Regions from separate parts of the Homo sapiens genome. Here region 1 is linked to region 2. Evidence: fine-mapped expression QTL. Tissue or cell type: gastroesophageal junction. Region 2 holds a variant in brackets; the other region holds the start of a gene. All regions are shown on one strand. Distances are from middle to middle.

Region 1 (8,103 bases), 780 kb after region 2:
ATTGACAAAATGTTTTTGAAAATGTCTCTTTTCTCACAAAATAGCCCAAAATCAAGAGACTGAATTTTAGCAAACATATTTAATAGGAGAAAAGCAGCATTGCCTCTATTTCCCTTTTATTTTTAATAAAGTTTACAATTAATTTTTAATCTCTAACACATTTATACGCCTCAAATATAAAAAGAAAAAGAGATACACTAAGAGGCTTTATTCCCACTGCTACCCAAATCTAACCTGTTCCTATTACCTCCTACAAATGACTTTTTTTTTTTTTTGAGACGGAGTCTCCCCGTCACCCAGGCTGGAGTGCAATGGCACGATCTCAGCTCACTGCAGCCTCTGCCTCCTGGGTTCAAGTGATTCTCCTGCCTCAGCCTCCCAAGTAACTGGGAATACAGGTGCACACCACCATACCCAGCTAATTTTTTGTATCTTCAGTAGACATGGGGTTTCACCATATTGCTCGGTCTGGTCTCAAACCCCTGACCTCGTGATCCGCCCTCTTAGGCCTCCCACAAATGACTATTCATTGTTTCTCTTTATACTGTTTGTTTTGCAAATACAGGCAAATGCATATATAAATTTTTATATCCTCCTCCTCTTGTAAAAGGAAGTATAATATATATTGTTCTGCACCTTATAAACCAGTATCCCATTAATATGCTTCAAACTTAATTTCAATACATATTTTTTTGGAGCCTAGGTATAACAGTAAAGAAACTTCGACTGAGTTATTCTTGCTACATCCTCCAACGACTCATAATTATGCCCCACAACTCTCTATGGTTCACCTCCTTAGCGGTTCAAAGGAAACACAGTGGTTAAAAAAAAAAAAAAAAACTCTCTAAGGCTGAAAAAAACAGAAGTTACTAGTATTCCTTCCAGTTCAGAAACATTATTGACAAGCAAAAGGGGGGAAAAAAAGGAAGGAAAAAAACGTTAAAAAAAATCAGCAAATAGTTGGGAAAAAACATGGAAGAGATTATAGCTATAGTAAGTGTTTCTAATAACTGTACAAGCAACTAACTGAATCACTTACTTGGCTAACACTTTGGTGTGAGTATTGATGACATTCAAAGCTTCCTTGAAACTTCCATTCTGGATAAGGCATACCACTTTACAATGCAGGGCAGTTACGTCATCTTTGTTGATCTGTAGTACTAGAGAACAATTTTAGGAAAAGTCATTTTTAAATCCATTTCCTTTTCACATTTTTACTAAATTTTCCCACCCTGTCTCTCCGAAAGCTAAATTTCTACTTTTATTGCAACAGAAATAATTGGTCAGAACAACTGGAAGAAACAGCAACAAAACAAAACAAACCCAGAAAACAACTAATCTTTGCTTTTAACTTAAGAAGTGACAATAAGGAGAGTTATAGATTAAATTTTCAATGAGATAAAGATTCCCAATATACATGTACCAAAAAAGTGCAGTGAAATAAAGAAGAAAGAAGCAATTTCTCCAGATATTTCATCTTGAAATGCATGCTACATTCTACATAGTTCATTACTTCACAGGGAAAAAGTTCAGGTAGAATTTGGAAGCAAATGACCTAGGTTTGGTGCAAGCTTGCCACTAAATGCTTTGAGGTATTGGGCATATCACTTAACAGCCAAATCTCAGTTTTCTTAGCTACAAAATGATTAGAAAAGCATTACCTATTTAATAAGGTTACTGACAATATGAAATGAATATTTTGGAAAAATCTTATAAAGTATAATACAAAGGCAATTTATCTTGCTGGCAACGTTTCCAAAAATCATTAAAATTTCCCCTTTTCAACTAAGATGACCAAAGTATAAGGAAGAACTCAGGTGGCAAGTTTCAACGCTAACAACTGTTCGGTGTTAAAATGACCAGGATCATAGTTACTCTTGCTCCTGTGCAACTACAGAAGTCCAATTCTCAAAGAATCACAAGAATTTCTACCAATTAAGAAAACATACTGGTAAACAAGTTGACAATCTTTGCTGATTAAAGAATTCCTGCAAAATACTATACTAAGTATACAGTACTGGTTGGAAGGCTAGAGTTAATTCAAACAAATTTAGGGATCAAATAATTCTAATTCGTAGCTATTTTCCTCAATGTCTGAAATCACCAAAAGTGCACTGTGGGCACAATCACTACTTTTCACGTTAACCCAGTACTAGAGTGTTGAAAATTACTTAGATAGCTTTGCATGTTACTGACACACCTTTTAGGTTACTGCTACTCTGAACAGCTAAGCCCTGCCTTGGTAATTACATTTCCAAATCTAACATGCACAGGCTGTATCTTCAGTAGAGAAGAACTGCGCACCACCGAGAACATTAAGCAGCATGGCCATATTCCAGGTATGTAGTAAGGAACAAAAGAATATGATGAATTAAACCTCACACCAAAGGCGGTAAAAACCGAAATCATCCCTTACAGGGCAAAAAAACAGGCCAAACTTTTCTTCCGACATTATTTCAAGTGTTGGTGCTTCCACACACATATTTCCTAACTTAATAACACTGAAGAGATCTCATCTATGGGAATGACAGGCCTGACATCCAGATCCAGCCCTTTCCTCTCGCCCCGTAGAACCCGTACAGCTTCCACCTGGTTAGCACCAGCCTCTAAACTACGTGTCCCAAGCAGGTTCCTCCCCCTTTAGCGGCCAAAGAGAACAAGCTCCCTCAGCAATAGAGTCCTGATCACTGCGCTCAAGACGAAGAAGAAAAGGAGGCACTTTGGAATATTTGTGAAATAAAGCAGCAAAGGAGTCAAATAAGAAAACAGTTTGAAATGGACTCCGGGAGCTGCGGTCTCTTTAAAACCTTCCCTCGCTTCCCGCGGAGGGTAAAAAGAGAAGTACACGTGGCTGTAAGCAACCAGGGACCCCAGGCTGGCCTGGTGAAGCCGAGGAGTGAGACCTGCGTCTTCCGGGCGCTAGGGCCCGAGCCGGGCGGACAATAGACGGGGGGGTTTCGGGGGTCTCCCCTTCCCGTGCCTCCCGCGCGAGGTGGTCTCGCGCGCCGGAAACAGGCCGCATCCTCCAGCCGGCCTGGGCCCGCCCCAGTGCCCACCCCGACACTTACTCTTATTGACGGTCTTGAGAGCGCGCGTGAAGTCGCCGTTCTGGCCATACCGGTTCACTTCACTCCACAGCGCAGGTACTGACACCCCCCCGCTGCCGCCGCTCGCCATCTTGGAGGAGACGAGGGGCGGGGCGGGGAGACCTCTGCCCCGGAACAGGATCTCCGAGGCAGCCAAGAGGAGGAGGAAGTCGATGATTGCTAAGCGTCGCCGAGTTGGGAGTGTCTTCAGCCCTAAGGCAGCATCAGAGATCATAATCTTCTGCTCTCGTGGCAAGAAATTTGTGCGGATAGAGTTGATACACCTCACTTGAAGTTGGCCTGGAGAAAAGAGGCGTCGGACTCCTGGACGGGGTTGGGAAACGGTCACCAGTTTCGGCTCAAAGCAGCCTGTTTCCAGGAGACCGCCATGGTCGAGGCAGCGTCCTGGTCCCACGGTGCGGGGCCGGACGATCATTTATGGGATATAAATAAAAGGACTATGAGGTGGTAAATAAAAGACTACCAACTAGAAGCCATAGGGAGTCATTTGAAGGAGAAATAGGCACGGCTCATCTGTGGTTGAGGGAAAGGGATCTTGAAAGATGATTAGGAGAACTTGGGTTCTGGGGAAAGTGCGGGAAGACATTCTGGCAGAGAAGCAAACGTGAGGAAAGGTAAGAAGGCAAGAATCTCCCATTACAAAGGGTTTGGTGAAACCCTTTGCCTGTCCTTTTCGCTCCCTTCGGGAGCAGTCGGCAATAAGCTGGAAGGGTAATGGGGTGAAAATGCCCGTGGTCAGTTCCCTGGCTCTGCGACTCACTAGATGTCTGACAATAAACAAGTTACTTAGCTTCTGGGAGTCTGTTTTCCCGATTGTGAAATGGGGATACTATATTTGTTCTAGAGATATAAAATATTAGGGTTTGCTTGCGACCGTTAATATCAAGATGTGTTCAGATGTACGAAGGGAATGGATATCTGTTGGGTACACTTGATGTGAGTGATTTTTTTTTTTTTTTGAGACGGGGATCTTGCCGTGTTGCCCAAGCTGGTCTGGAACTCCTGGGCTCAAGCAATCCTCCCACCACAGCCTCCCCAAGTGCTGGGATTACAGGCATGAGCCACCACACCAAGACGATGTGAGTGATTCACTTGATGTGAATGTTGTATTTCATTGAATGGCCTGCTCTTCAGACTCATATCTCGTCATGACCTTTACAACTTCTACTACTTCCTGTGTCCCTCAGGAACCTAGCTTTTTTTTTTTTTTTTTTTTTTTTTTTTTGAGACGTAGTCTAGCTCTGTGACCCAGGATGAACCTCACTGCAATCTCCACCTCCTGGGTTAAAGCGATTCTTTTGCCTCAGCCTCCCAAGTAGCATGAGCCACCACGCCCGGTTAATTTTTGAATTTTTAGTAGAGATGGGGTTTCACTGTGTTGGCCAAGCTGGTCTCAAACTCCTGACCTCAAGTGATCCGCCCTCTCTCAGCCTCCCAAAGTACAGGGATTACAGGCGTAAGCCACCGTGCCCGGCCTTGCTAACTACTTTTTGTCTTTCAGTCTTTCTGGTTATACGTTGAAAGTTACTTTGAGGAAACATTTGATCTTGCAGACTGGGCAGCCTTCTGGTTGCATCCTCTTAGAACAGGGGTCCCCAACCCTTGTACTGGTCTGCAGCCTGTTAGGAACCGGGCGGCACAGCAGTAGGTGATCGGTGGGCCAGTGAGCAGTACCGCCTGAGCTCCTGTCAGATCAGCTGTGATATTAGCTTCTCACAGCTCAAACCCTATTGTGAACTGGGAATGTGAAGGATCTAGGTTGCTCACTCCTTAAGAGAATCTAATGGGAAATGTAATGAGCTTGAATCATACTGAAACCAGCTGTCCAACTCCTGTGGAAAGATTGTCTTCCCTGAAACCGGTCCCTGGTGCCAAAAAGGTTGGGAGACTCCCTATAGGACTCCACTTCTGAGCACTGATAATTAAGGGTTATCTCACTCTGTATGGACTATAGTTCTGAGGCCAAGGAACCATATTTACCTTGCTCACTGCAGTATCCCTAGGATCTAGCATACTGCCTGGCACATAGTTGGCATTTTTTGTTTCACATTCCTTGCCTAATCTTGAGTTCCTTGAGGGCAGAAACTGCCCAGCTCCTGATATGGCATATGGTGCCCTGCCATATTTTTGTCTGGTCCTTCCAGTATATACAATGCAAAGAGCATGAAAGGTGGCTTGAACTCTAGGTGCTGGAGGGTGTAATTCTTGTGAATTAGTAAAAATCATGAGAAGAGCTTTAGACTTTTACTGACTAGAATTGTCACAGGTTTCAAGCCAGTTATGTTTAGATTTCAGGGGGTGGGGGCTCCAGATGACATGGTATACCCAAAATGTTGTGTGAGAAAATTGGGTATACCCAAAATTTTGTTGTATTTTGTTATTCTGAGAAAATGTAGATTCCACTGTATTCTCCAAAGGTGTTTATATCCACCATCCCCTCCCAAAAGTTAAGAGCCACTGTCCTAGTAGTACTTTTTAGAACATTGACTTTATATAAGAATTGGCAATTTTCGTTTCTATATCATTCTAATCCTATATACTTTGTAGCTTTTAGAAATGCTCAGAATTCTGCTGCTGTGGACTTGTTTCTATTTCTTATGTCATTTTAATGGAGTTTTGTGGCAAACAGCCTATAAATATGGGGCTTAACCTGCCATTTTTGAAACAGGAATCTTCCAAACCATAGTGGTGTTTTGTTTTTTTTTTTTTAAATAACAAATTTACATCTCACATTGTGAAGGATGGAAAGATTGTCTGGTGAGGGGCCACTCTGATTCATAGATGGCATCTTCTGTTTTCACATGGTGGGAAAAAAACCAGACTGATCTCTTAAAGCATGTATCTGATGCCACTTTCCTACCCTCACGATAAAATCCGAACTCCAAAGAAGAGCAGTAAGAGCTTTTGTGATCTGGCCTCTGCTTGCCACCTCCCCAACTCACATAGGTCTCTATACTTATTTCCTAGCCCCCTTGCATGCTATTCACCTCTAACTTCCATGTAGTTATGTGTCCCCCTACCTCCTGGAATTTGCATTTTTATTCATCTGACAAGTGTTTGTCTTGTATATGCCAGTGCCGTGTATTACACCAGTTGCTGTGATACAGCTGACAACAAAGAAGACAGCCCAGTGTAATACATTTATTTTCTAGTTGGGAGAGATGGGTAATAAATAAACATGTACTATGTTTGGTGGTAATAAGTTTGCTGAAGAAAATTATGGAAAGGTAAGAGAGATTGAGTATAGACTGTGGAGAATTAGTCTTTTTCATTCACAGTATACAATTGTTTTCTAGAGATCAGAGTCCTTCCTACTTTTGTGTATTCACAATACCCTATTGTTAATTCCATATTAAGACTATATACGGTGTTTTGAAATTGTCTGCCTCTGGAGACTTCCAAGATTCATTGAGAGCAGAAGGTTAATTTTGTTCATCTTTGCATTCCCAGGGTCTTATATATACATAATAGGCTGTATTTGTTCTCTAAAAAATACAGAACCAATAGGATATGTACAGATTATGAGAAATTGGCTCTGCAAAATGGAGGTGAAGTCCCACAGTCTGCCTTCTGCAGGCTGAAGGCCCAGGAAAGCCAGTGTAGTTCCAAACCCGAGGGCTTGAGAATCAGGGGAGGCAATAACGTTAAGTCCTAGTCTGAAGGCCTGAGGACCAGGAGCACCAACATCTGGGGGCACGAAATGGATGTCCCAGCAGTTCACCCTTCTTCCCCTTTTTTGTTCTATTCAGGCCCTCAATGGATTAGATGACGCTCACCCACATGGGTGAAGGCAGTCTTCTTTACTCAAGTCTACTGATTCAAGTGCTAGTCTCTTCCAGAAACACCATCACAGATGTACCTAGAAATGTTGTTTGACCAGCTATCAAGGCATCCCGTAGCCTAGTCAAGTTGACAGAATTAGCCATCTCATCAGTATCCACAATGTATTTTTATATTAATGGATTTAGCCTGAGAAGCTTCCATGTACAGTATCTTTTTTTTTTTTTTTTTGGCGACAGATTTTCGCTCTTGTTGCCCAGGCTGGAGTGCAATGGTTCGATCTCAGCTCACCACAACCTCTGCCTTCCAGGTTCAAGCGATTCTCCTGCCTCAGCCTCCCGAGTAGTTGGAATTATAGGCATGCACCACCATGCCTGGCTAATTTTGTATTTTTAGTAAAGAGGGGGTTTCTCCATGTCAGTCAGGCTGGTCTTGAACTCCCGACCTCAGGTGATCTGCCCACCTCACCCTCCCAAAGTGCTGGGATTACAGGCGTGAGCCACTGCACCCAGCCTCATGTACAGTATCTTATGGTATCTTGTCAACTCAGAGGCAAGCAGAAGAAATAAGACGTGAGCCACCGCGCCCAGCCTCATGTACAGTATCTTATGGTATCTTATCAACTCAGAGGCAAGCAGAAGAAATATTTAGCTCCATTTTATAACTTGATTTCCATTCCACTATTTTCATTGTACTGCAATGTGAGATTAACAATTCCACCCCAAGTATTTGAGGTGTGGGAAGCTGGATGTAAAAACACCATTAAAAACAACTCTTTTCAATGGCTTTCTAAGGTTGGCTGGGCTGAAATGGCAGGTTGTGGATGCTCCGTGGCACATCACACTGCCCCTTTCTTCATATTAGAAATTAAATCAGCCGATGGCAATATTGAATTCCAGGTAATTTTCTTTCTTTCTTTTTTTTTGAAACAGAGTTTTGCTCTTGTTGCCCAGGCTGGAGTACAATGGCGCAACCTCGGCTCACCACAACCTCCGCTTCCCAGGTTCAAGCGATTCTCCTGCCTCAGCCTCCTGAGTCGCTGGGATTACAGGAATGTGCCACCATGCCCGGCTAGTTTTGTATTTTTATTAGAGACTGGGTTTCTCCATGTTGGTCAGGCTGGTCTCGAACTCCTGATCTCAGGTGATCCACCTGCCTCGGCCACCCAAAGTGCTGGGATTACAGGCATGAGCTACCATGCCCAGAGAATTCCAGG
Region 2 (8,107 bases):
TTGCAGAGCTATTTAGAGATACCTTGCCTTTTTTTTCCTTCTCTTTTTTTCCATATTAAAGTTTTTGGTGGAATTTCCTCACCCAAGTCAGTTGTGAAATCTGTACAGTGGAGACAATAAAATGGAGGCTTAATGATTCAGTTCATGTTCCTTTATCAACTCACTGCCCACACAGCCAACTCATTAGTATCAAATAGAACAAAAATGCCTGCAGGAAAATCGTGGGTGCTACTTTCAAGCAGTTCTTTTGATCTATGAGTCATCTTTGCTCTGGCTCCAACTTTAGGCAAATCATTTAACTTTCCCTAGTCTTTGCTTTGTTAAGCCTCTGTTTCCCCATTCACAAAATGGGCCTCATATAGTTGCCACCTCACAGAATCATGGAGAAGAGTATATCAGATAATGCTGGAAGATATCACTCAATCTGTTTACTCAAAAAAGCACTCAAGTGCCTGGAAATCTACTTTTAGGGATGCTACTGCACTTAATTGATATAATAAAACATATATGGTGGCTTCTATCATTCAAGTTTTTATAAATGAAGGAACAGAAAAGTTAAGTAACTTGCCCAATGTCACCCAGCTAAAAGTAGAGAACGGTGGATTTGAACTCTTTTCTGTTCGACTCCGGATTATTTTCAATGCTCCACACTGATGAACAACAACATATGTGGAGTGTCTCCTATAGCAAGCATTTGGCAAAATGCTGAAGCAAATTTTTTTAGAAAAAAATTCATTCCATTTAAGTCAAGCCTAGTCCTTAGGCAAAGCTATGAAGTGAAGTAAGCAAAATTGATCTCCTCTGTCCTTCCTGCCCACCTCTAAGGAACAGCCTTCTTGTGGCCCCTATAAGCCCAGGGATCTTCTCACAAATGCCTCACTAGGACCTACCTACCCAGACAGTGGCCTGACTTCTACATCAGTGATACACAAAGTAACCGGTCTATGCGTTGCTTCTTTAGCGGTGATTTCTGAGATTTTGGTGCACCTATCACCCCAGCAGTGTACACTGTACCCAATGTGTAGACTTTTATCCCTTGCCACCTCCCACCATTTCCCCCAATTCCCCAAAGTTCAGTGTATCGTTCTTATGCCTTTGCGTCCTCATAGCTTAACTCCCACATATGAGTGAGAACATATGATACTTGGTTTTCCATTCTTGAGTTACTTCACTTAGAATAATAGTCTCCAATTCCATCCAGGTTGCTGCAAATGCCATTATTTCATCCCTCTTTATGGCTGAGTAGTATTCCATGTTTTATATATATATATAAAACATGATATATATATCACATTTTCTTCATCCACTCATTGATTGATGGGCATTTGAGCTGGTTCCACATTTTTGCAATTGCAAATTGTGCTGCTGTAAACACGCGTGTGCAAGTATCTTTTTTGTGTAATGACTTCTTTTCCTCTGGGTAGATACCTAGTAGTGGGATTGCTGGATCAAACTGTAGATCTACTTTTAGTTCTTTAAGGAATCTCCACACTGTTTTCCCTAGTAGCTGTACCAGGGAAATAATTTAACTTTCCCTAGTCTTTGTTTTGTTAAGCCTCTGTTTCCCCATTTTACATTCCCACCAGCAGTGTAAAAGTGTTCCCTTTTCACTGAATATATTATTTTTTGATTTTTAAATTATGGCCATTCTTGCAGTACTGAGGTGATATTGCATTGTGGTTTTGATTTGCATTTTCCTGATAGTTTGTGATGTTGAGCATTTTTCCATATGCTTGTTGGCCATTTATATATCTTCTTTTGAGAACTGTCTATTCATGTCCTTAGCCCACCTTTTTTTTTTTTTTTTTTTTTTTTTTTTTGAAACAGAGTCTCACTCTGTCACCGGGCTGGAGTGCAGTGGCACGATCTTGGCTCACTGCAACCTCCACCTCCTGAGTTCTAGCAATTCTCCTGCCTCAGCCTCCGGAGTAGCTGGGATTACAGGCGTGTGCCACCACACTCAGCTAATTTTTGTATTTTTACTAGAGACAAGGTTTCACCATGTTGGCTAGGATGGTCTCGATCTCTTGACCTCGCGATCTGCCCACCTCTTGCTGGGATCATTTGTTTTTTCTTGCTGATTTATTTGAGTTTTTTGTAGATTCTGGATATTAGTCCTTTGTCAGAGGTATAGATTGTGAAGATTTTCTCTGTAGGTTGTCTGTTAACTCTGCTGATTATTTTTTTGCTGTGCAGAAGCTTTTTGGTTTAAGTCCCATCTATTTATATTTGCTTTTGTTGCATTTGCTTTTGGGTTCTTCGTCATGAAGTCTTTGCCTAAGCCAATGTCTATAAGGGTTTTTCTGATGTTATCTTCTAGAATCTTTATGGTTTCTGGTCTTATATTTAAGTGTTGGATCCACCTCAAGTTGATTTTTGTAAAAGGTGAGAGATGAGGATCCAGTTTCATTCTTCTACATGTGGCTAGCCAATTATCCCAGAACCATTTGTTGAATACAGTGTCCTTTCCCCTCTCCACTTTATGTTTTTGTTTGTTTTGTCAAAGATCAATTGGCTGTAAATATTTGGCTTTATTTCTGTGTTCTCTATTCTGTTCTCTATTCTGTTTTATAGAACAGACTCTATTCTATTCTATAAAATGTGCCTATTTTTATACTAGTACCATGTAGTTTTGGTGACTATGACCTTATAGTATAGTTTGAAGTTGTGTAATGTGATGCCTCCAGATTTATTCTTTTTGCTTAGTCTTGCTTTGATTATGTGGGCTCTTTTTGGGTTCCATATGAATTTTAGGATTTTTTTTTAGTTCTGTAAAGAATGGTGAAGTTATTTTTATGGGAATTGCATTGAATTTGTGCATTGTTTTTGGGAGTATGTCATTTTCACAATATTGATTCTACCCAGCCATGAGCATGGAATGTGTTTCCATTTGTTAGTGTCATCTATGATTTCTTTTAGCATTGTTTTGCAGTTTTCCTTGCAGAGGTCTTTCACGTCCTTGGTTAGGTATATTCCTAAGTTGTTTTTTGTTTTGTTTTGTTTCGCAGCTATTGTAAAAGGGGTTAAATTCTTGATTTGATTCTCAGCTTGGTCACTATCGGTGTATAGCAGAGCTACTGATTTGTCTGTACTAATTTTGTATCCTGAAACTTTGCTGAATTCATTTACCAGTTCTAAGAGCTTTTTGGATGAGTCTTCAGGGTTTTCTAGGTATACACTCATATCATCAGCAAACGGTGACAGTTTGACTTCCTCTTAAGGAAGCTCTTGGATGCCCTCTGTTCTGTCCATTTCTATCATTGACCCGAAAAATTAATTCATGTGAACATATCAGTGTTGCTAATAAAGAACCTTTGGAGTCTCTGGATAAAATCTTTATAATTTAAAGTGGGTCTACAGAGGAAAATAAATTGTTCTACAAAAAAAAGACATGCACTTGTATGTTTATCACAGCACTATTCACAATAGCAAAGACATGGAATCAAAGTGCCCACTGGAAGTGGATTGGATAAAGAAAATAGGGTTTATAAACACCGTGGAATACTATGCAGCCATAAAAAAGAACAAAATCATGTACTTTGCAGCAAGATGGATGCAGCTAGAGGCCATTGTCCTAAGCAAATTAATGCAGGAACAGAAAACCAAATACCATATGTTCTCACTAAGTGAGGGCTAAACATTGGGTACTCGTGGACATCAAGATGGCAAAAATAGGCACTGGGGACTACTAGAAGGGAGAGAAAGTGGGAGCAAGGGTTGTAACTATTGGGTACTATGCTCATTACCTGAGTGACAGGATCAATCATACCCCAAAACCCAGCATCACACAATATTCCCATGTAAAAAACCTGCACATGCACCTCCTGAAACTAAAATAAAAGTTGAAATTATTTGTAATAAACAAACAAAATGGGACTATTATAGATGTTCCTTAACCCAGAGAATCATTCTGATAGTGTGAATTTTAGGTACCTGTACCATGCAAGGCTGTAAGAAATATACATTAGGGAAACAGATGGAAATTTAGTTGCTACTTCAGTCACTTAAAACTGACTCTTGTGTGTATGTG[T/C]ATATGTACACACATCCACATGTGTGTGGCCTGTGGTAGCATGGTGAGGCATGATGACATGCTATTATGATGTGAGGGTTAGGGAGAGAAGCTACTTGTTTTTTGGTCAAAAGATTTCCTCTGAGTCTGCCAGAGAGAGGCAGGGTGAACTTAAACCTTGCTTCTCTATCAGAGACAGATATTTTTTTCTCTCCTCTTCGTATTCCTAGTACTAAGGGAGGATGTGTGCCCAGTGTGCCAAGAAGAGTGCCTGGAACATTGCAGGCACTCAATAAGTGTATTAGTCCTTCAGCAAGCATCCACTTAGCTCTTGTTTTATGCCAGGCTCTGTTTATACACCAGAGAATAAAACAGATGAAGACCTGGCTCTCCTGGTGCTCACATTCTAGTGGCAGAGACATTAAATAGAGGGGAAGGAGTGAAGTGAGGAGCAGCCTTTAAGAAGTTCAAGTTGGGGGCAAAAGGAGGTAAAAACAGACTGTGTGCGTGTAGCCTGCACTGTGTTCCCTTTCTCTGGGCCATATCCAGAATGACATAGATCTATGATAGTTCTATGGCAGGCTGAGTTTGGGTATTTAAATTGTTCAAAGAGGGAATTGGGGCCATGCGCGGTGGCTCACACCTGTAATTCCAGCACTTTGGGAGGCTGAGGCAGGCAGATCACAAGATCAAGAGATCGAGACCATCCTGGCCAGCATGGTGAAACCCCGTCTCTACAAAAATACAAAAATTAGCTGGGCGTGGTGGCAGGCACCTGTAGTCCCAGCTACCTGGGAGGCTGAGGCAGGAGAATCACTTGAACCCAGGAGGTGGAGGTTGCAGTGAGCCGAGATCATGCAACTGCAATCCAGCCTTGTGACAGAGTGAGACTCTTTCTAAAAAAAAAAGGGGGGGAATTGGGATAAGTTGAAGTAAAAACTTTCTTACTAGGATAGAATGCCAAGGGAAAGTGCAAATTCCATTCCTTGAATAAAAATGGGTGATGAAAATCCAATTCTTACCAGGAACCATGAGTTGAAGAAAGAATGCTGGACAGGAAGTCTGCATTCCTGCTGTGCTGTTTATAAGCTGGGCGACCTTAGCCAAGTCTCTCCACCACCATAAGCCTTAGTGTCCTCATCTACAGAAAGAGAAGGGAGGATTTGATGACCACTGAGTTCCCTTCCAATCCTGTGGATTCAATGACACCAAACTCTTCTGGTCTCTTCAAGTCCTCTACTTCTATATTTTCATTTACTGTAGGTTTTTACTGGAAAAAACAGAATGCACCACTTCTTGGAATATAGTGTTAGCCTCAAGATTTCTTAAAAAGTATAACCCACTGCTGGGATTACCATTGTGAAAAGTCTGAGAGAGGAGACAGGGCAGAGACAAGGGTTGGGGGCAGAGGGAACACATATAATACCACTATGTCTGTGTATAGACAGGAAATCTCAAAATATCTCTCACGGTCATGTGGGGCATCTCCCTCACTGTCATAATACAGGTAAATCAAGCTCTATACAATCTATACTGTTGAAAAGCAGCATCAAAACCCAGTTTGGGTCATTTAAATTATAGAAATACACTAGAGAAATTGTTATTAAAGAGAATCTTTTAATATCTTTTGTGATGCAAATGAATGCTCCATATTTCATTTTCATGACAATCTGGGTTTGTATGAATTTATATTTAAAAATTACAGCCAATATTTACCAAGGGCCCACCCTGTATCAGGCTCTGCGCCAAGAAGTTTGCATACAGTATTGCATCTAATAACAGCCTCACAAAATTATTTCTGATTATCACAATTTTACAGAAGAAGAAAATGCAGCTCAGAGAAGTTGAGTGATTTACCCAAAGTAACACAGAGTGTAGTAGGAAGGAGAATGAGTAGACAAGCCTAAATTTATCTAATCTAAGAGCCAAAATTCTTAACCACTACTCTATACTGCCCAAAAAAATTGAAGCAAAGTCTGCTCTGGGTACATGTGGAGTCTAGGGGCTCTCTTTGTCCTGTAGCTTCTATTTTCTTAGTCCAAGTCCCCACACCCATTTCTCAGCTACTGAACCTTGTTTACAGGCCTGAAAAATGGCAAGTGGTTTTCAGGCATAGATTCTGTTCTCAGAAGCCCAAGACTATGAGCCAAAATAGGCCGTGGAAGGCTCAAAAGAGAGTGGCCAGGCCAAGAGAAGGCTCAAAGCCATGTTATGTGGGAACAGTGGAAGAAGTGAACAGGCTTGGACTGGAAAGAAGAAGGCTCCAGGGAAACAGGTGCTAACAGAGTTTTTCACAGCTCAGCTGTCTCATTTGAAGAAGTCGCTTCAGCCAGAAGCAGCAGACTCAGTACATTCAGCAATGCAGATTGATTTTTAAAATACAGAAAGAAACAGAAGGTGATCTATAGCACAAAGTCAGGTATTTAAGTTTTAAAAATTTTTTAAATCTATGACAGGCCGGGCGTGGTGCTTCAGGCCTGTAATCCCAGCACTTTGGGAGGCTGTGGCAGGTGGATCACCTGAGGTCAAGAGTTTGAAACCAGCCTGGCCAACATGGTGAAACCCTGTCTTTACTAAAAATACAAAAATTAGCCAAGCATGGTGACACGTGCCTGTAGCCCCAGCTACTTGGGAGATTGAGGTAGGACAATCATTTGAACCCGGGAGGCGGAGCTTGCAGTGAGCTGAGATCGCACCACTGCACTCCAGCCTGAGCAACAGAGGGAGACTCCATCTCAAAAAAAAAAAAAATCTGTGACAAAAAAGTACATGTTTTACAAGAACTCATACAAATAGAAAAATACACATCATATGCTTTAGGATGGTTGCTTATGAGGAAGAAGTAAGAGGGCTGGGAAGAGTCAAAAGGAAGAAATAAGTGGCATTTGCCTTATTTTTACCTTGGTCCGAATATATGCATGAGGACCACATGTGTTAAGCCCCAGGAGATAATGCTAGGATCCGCAGGTGAAACTCAAAGAGCACTATTCAAAATACATCCTGAGCCCACACACTTTGCACACCAAGATGCCATTGTCTCTGGCCCGAACTTCCGCAGCAGTCTCTAACTGCTCTCCCTAAGCCCACTTACTTTCCCATACAGTCTATTTGCAGAGCAAATTTTCTATAACTTAAGTCAAATCGTACTAGGACCCTCCAATGACTCCTTATCATGTTTAGAGTAAAATACGGTATCCTTACAAAGACTCCCAAGGCCCCATGGGTCTGGCTCCCATGGTCTGCCTCCCATTCCCTTTCTAACCTCATATCTCACCATCCTCCCCTTTGCCTTCCCCATTCCAATCACACTGGCCTCTTCACTGCTCCATAAACCTGCCTCAGGCCCTTTGCGCTTACTGTTTCTGCTGCTGGAATGCTCTTCCCCTTGATACTCACATGGCTCTTTCAGGACTCCACTTGAAAGTCAGTTGTCCATGAGGCCTTTCCTAACCACACTAGTTAAGACTGCAAGTGTCCGCCCCTGGCATTCTCTTTCTTTCTTACTTGTCCCAGTCGTGCTCTTCATTTTACTTGCCTTTATTCTGTCTCTCTTCTGTAGGAAGCAAACTCCAAAAGCACAGAGATTGCTTTCTATTTTGCTCACTTGTTAGATCCTCAGAACTTAATACCTGAAGCATAGTATGCACTCAGTAAAAGCATTTGAATTGATTTTTGTTCAACGTAAAAAATTTCCTACAGAGTTGACCATAAATGAAATGAGATATCTCATAAGGTAGTGAGCTCCCCACCTCTGGATGTATTCAAGACTGAAAGCATTCAAGATGTATTCAAAGCTGTGATCTTTTGGTAAAGATACAAAAGAAAAAATTCAAGCCCTAGGTATTTGATTGGACTAGATATTAACCCAAGTGCCTCCCAACCCTGAAATATCATAGTTCTGAGAATCACCACAAAGAGGCTAAGACTCTTTAAACTGAACCTAGGGGAGGTCAGCAAATGCTTAAGAAACCAGGGTCATAGTTTCTCCATTCTTCTCTGCCTAGTGAATTGAGCACCAGTAGCTTTTGGTTTGAGGGGGACAGGGATTGTTTGGTTTTTCATCTCTAATGTGAGTCTTTTAAGCCCCACGAATCTATC

The links. PIP is the estimated chance that this variant, and not a neighbour inherited with it, causes the effect.
Region 1: SRP72 starts here. The variant in region 2 is fine-mapped to the expression of SRP72 in gastroesophageal junction (GTEx, PIP 0.96). The same link has a PIP of 0.9 or more in spinal cord.

The regions. Positions count from the first base shown.
Region 1 is chr4:56,462,710-56,470,812 of GRCh38, reverse strand. It overlaps SRP72 (signal recognition particle 72), which reads right to left and starts at 3,196. Exons shown (of 19, transcript NM_006947.4): 1 at 3,069-3,196; 2 at 1,040-1,160. The coding sequence starts at 3,177. It overlaps PAICS (phosphoribosylaminoimidazole carboxylase and phosphoribosylaminoimidazolesuccinocarboxamide synthase), which reads right to left. Exons shown (of 9, transcript NM_001079524.2): 9 at 6,235-8,103. It overlaps LOC124900706 (a long non-coding RNA gene), which reads left to right and starts at 3,255. Exons shown (of 2, transcript XR_007058126.1): 1 at 3,255-3,721; 2 at 7,820-8,103. RefSeq lists an enhancer at 3,142-3,351.
Region 2 is chr4:57,241,392-57,249,498 of GRCh38, reverse strand. No RefSeq gene overlaps it. Among named protein-coding and RNA genes, the nearest start is that of IGFBP7, 140 kb to the right of the region's middle. The variant T/C (reference allele first, on the strand shown) is at 4,031.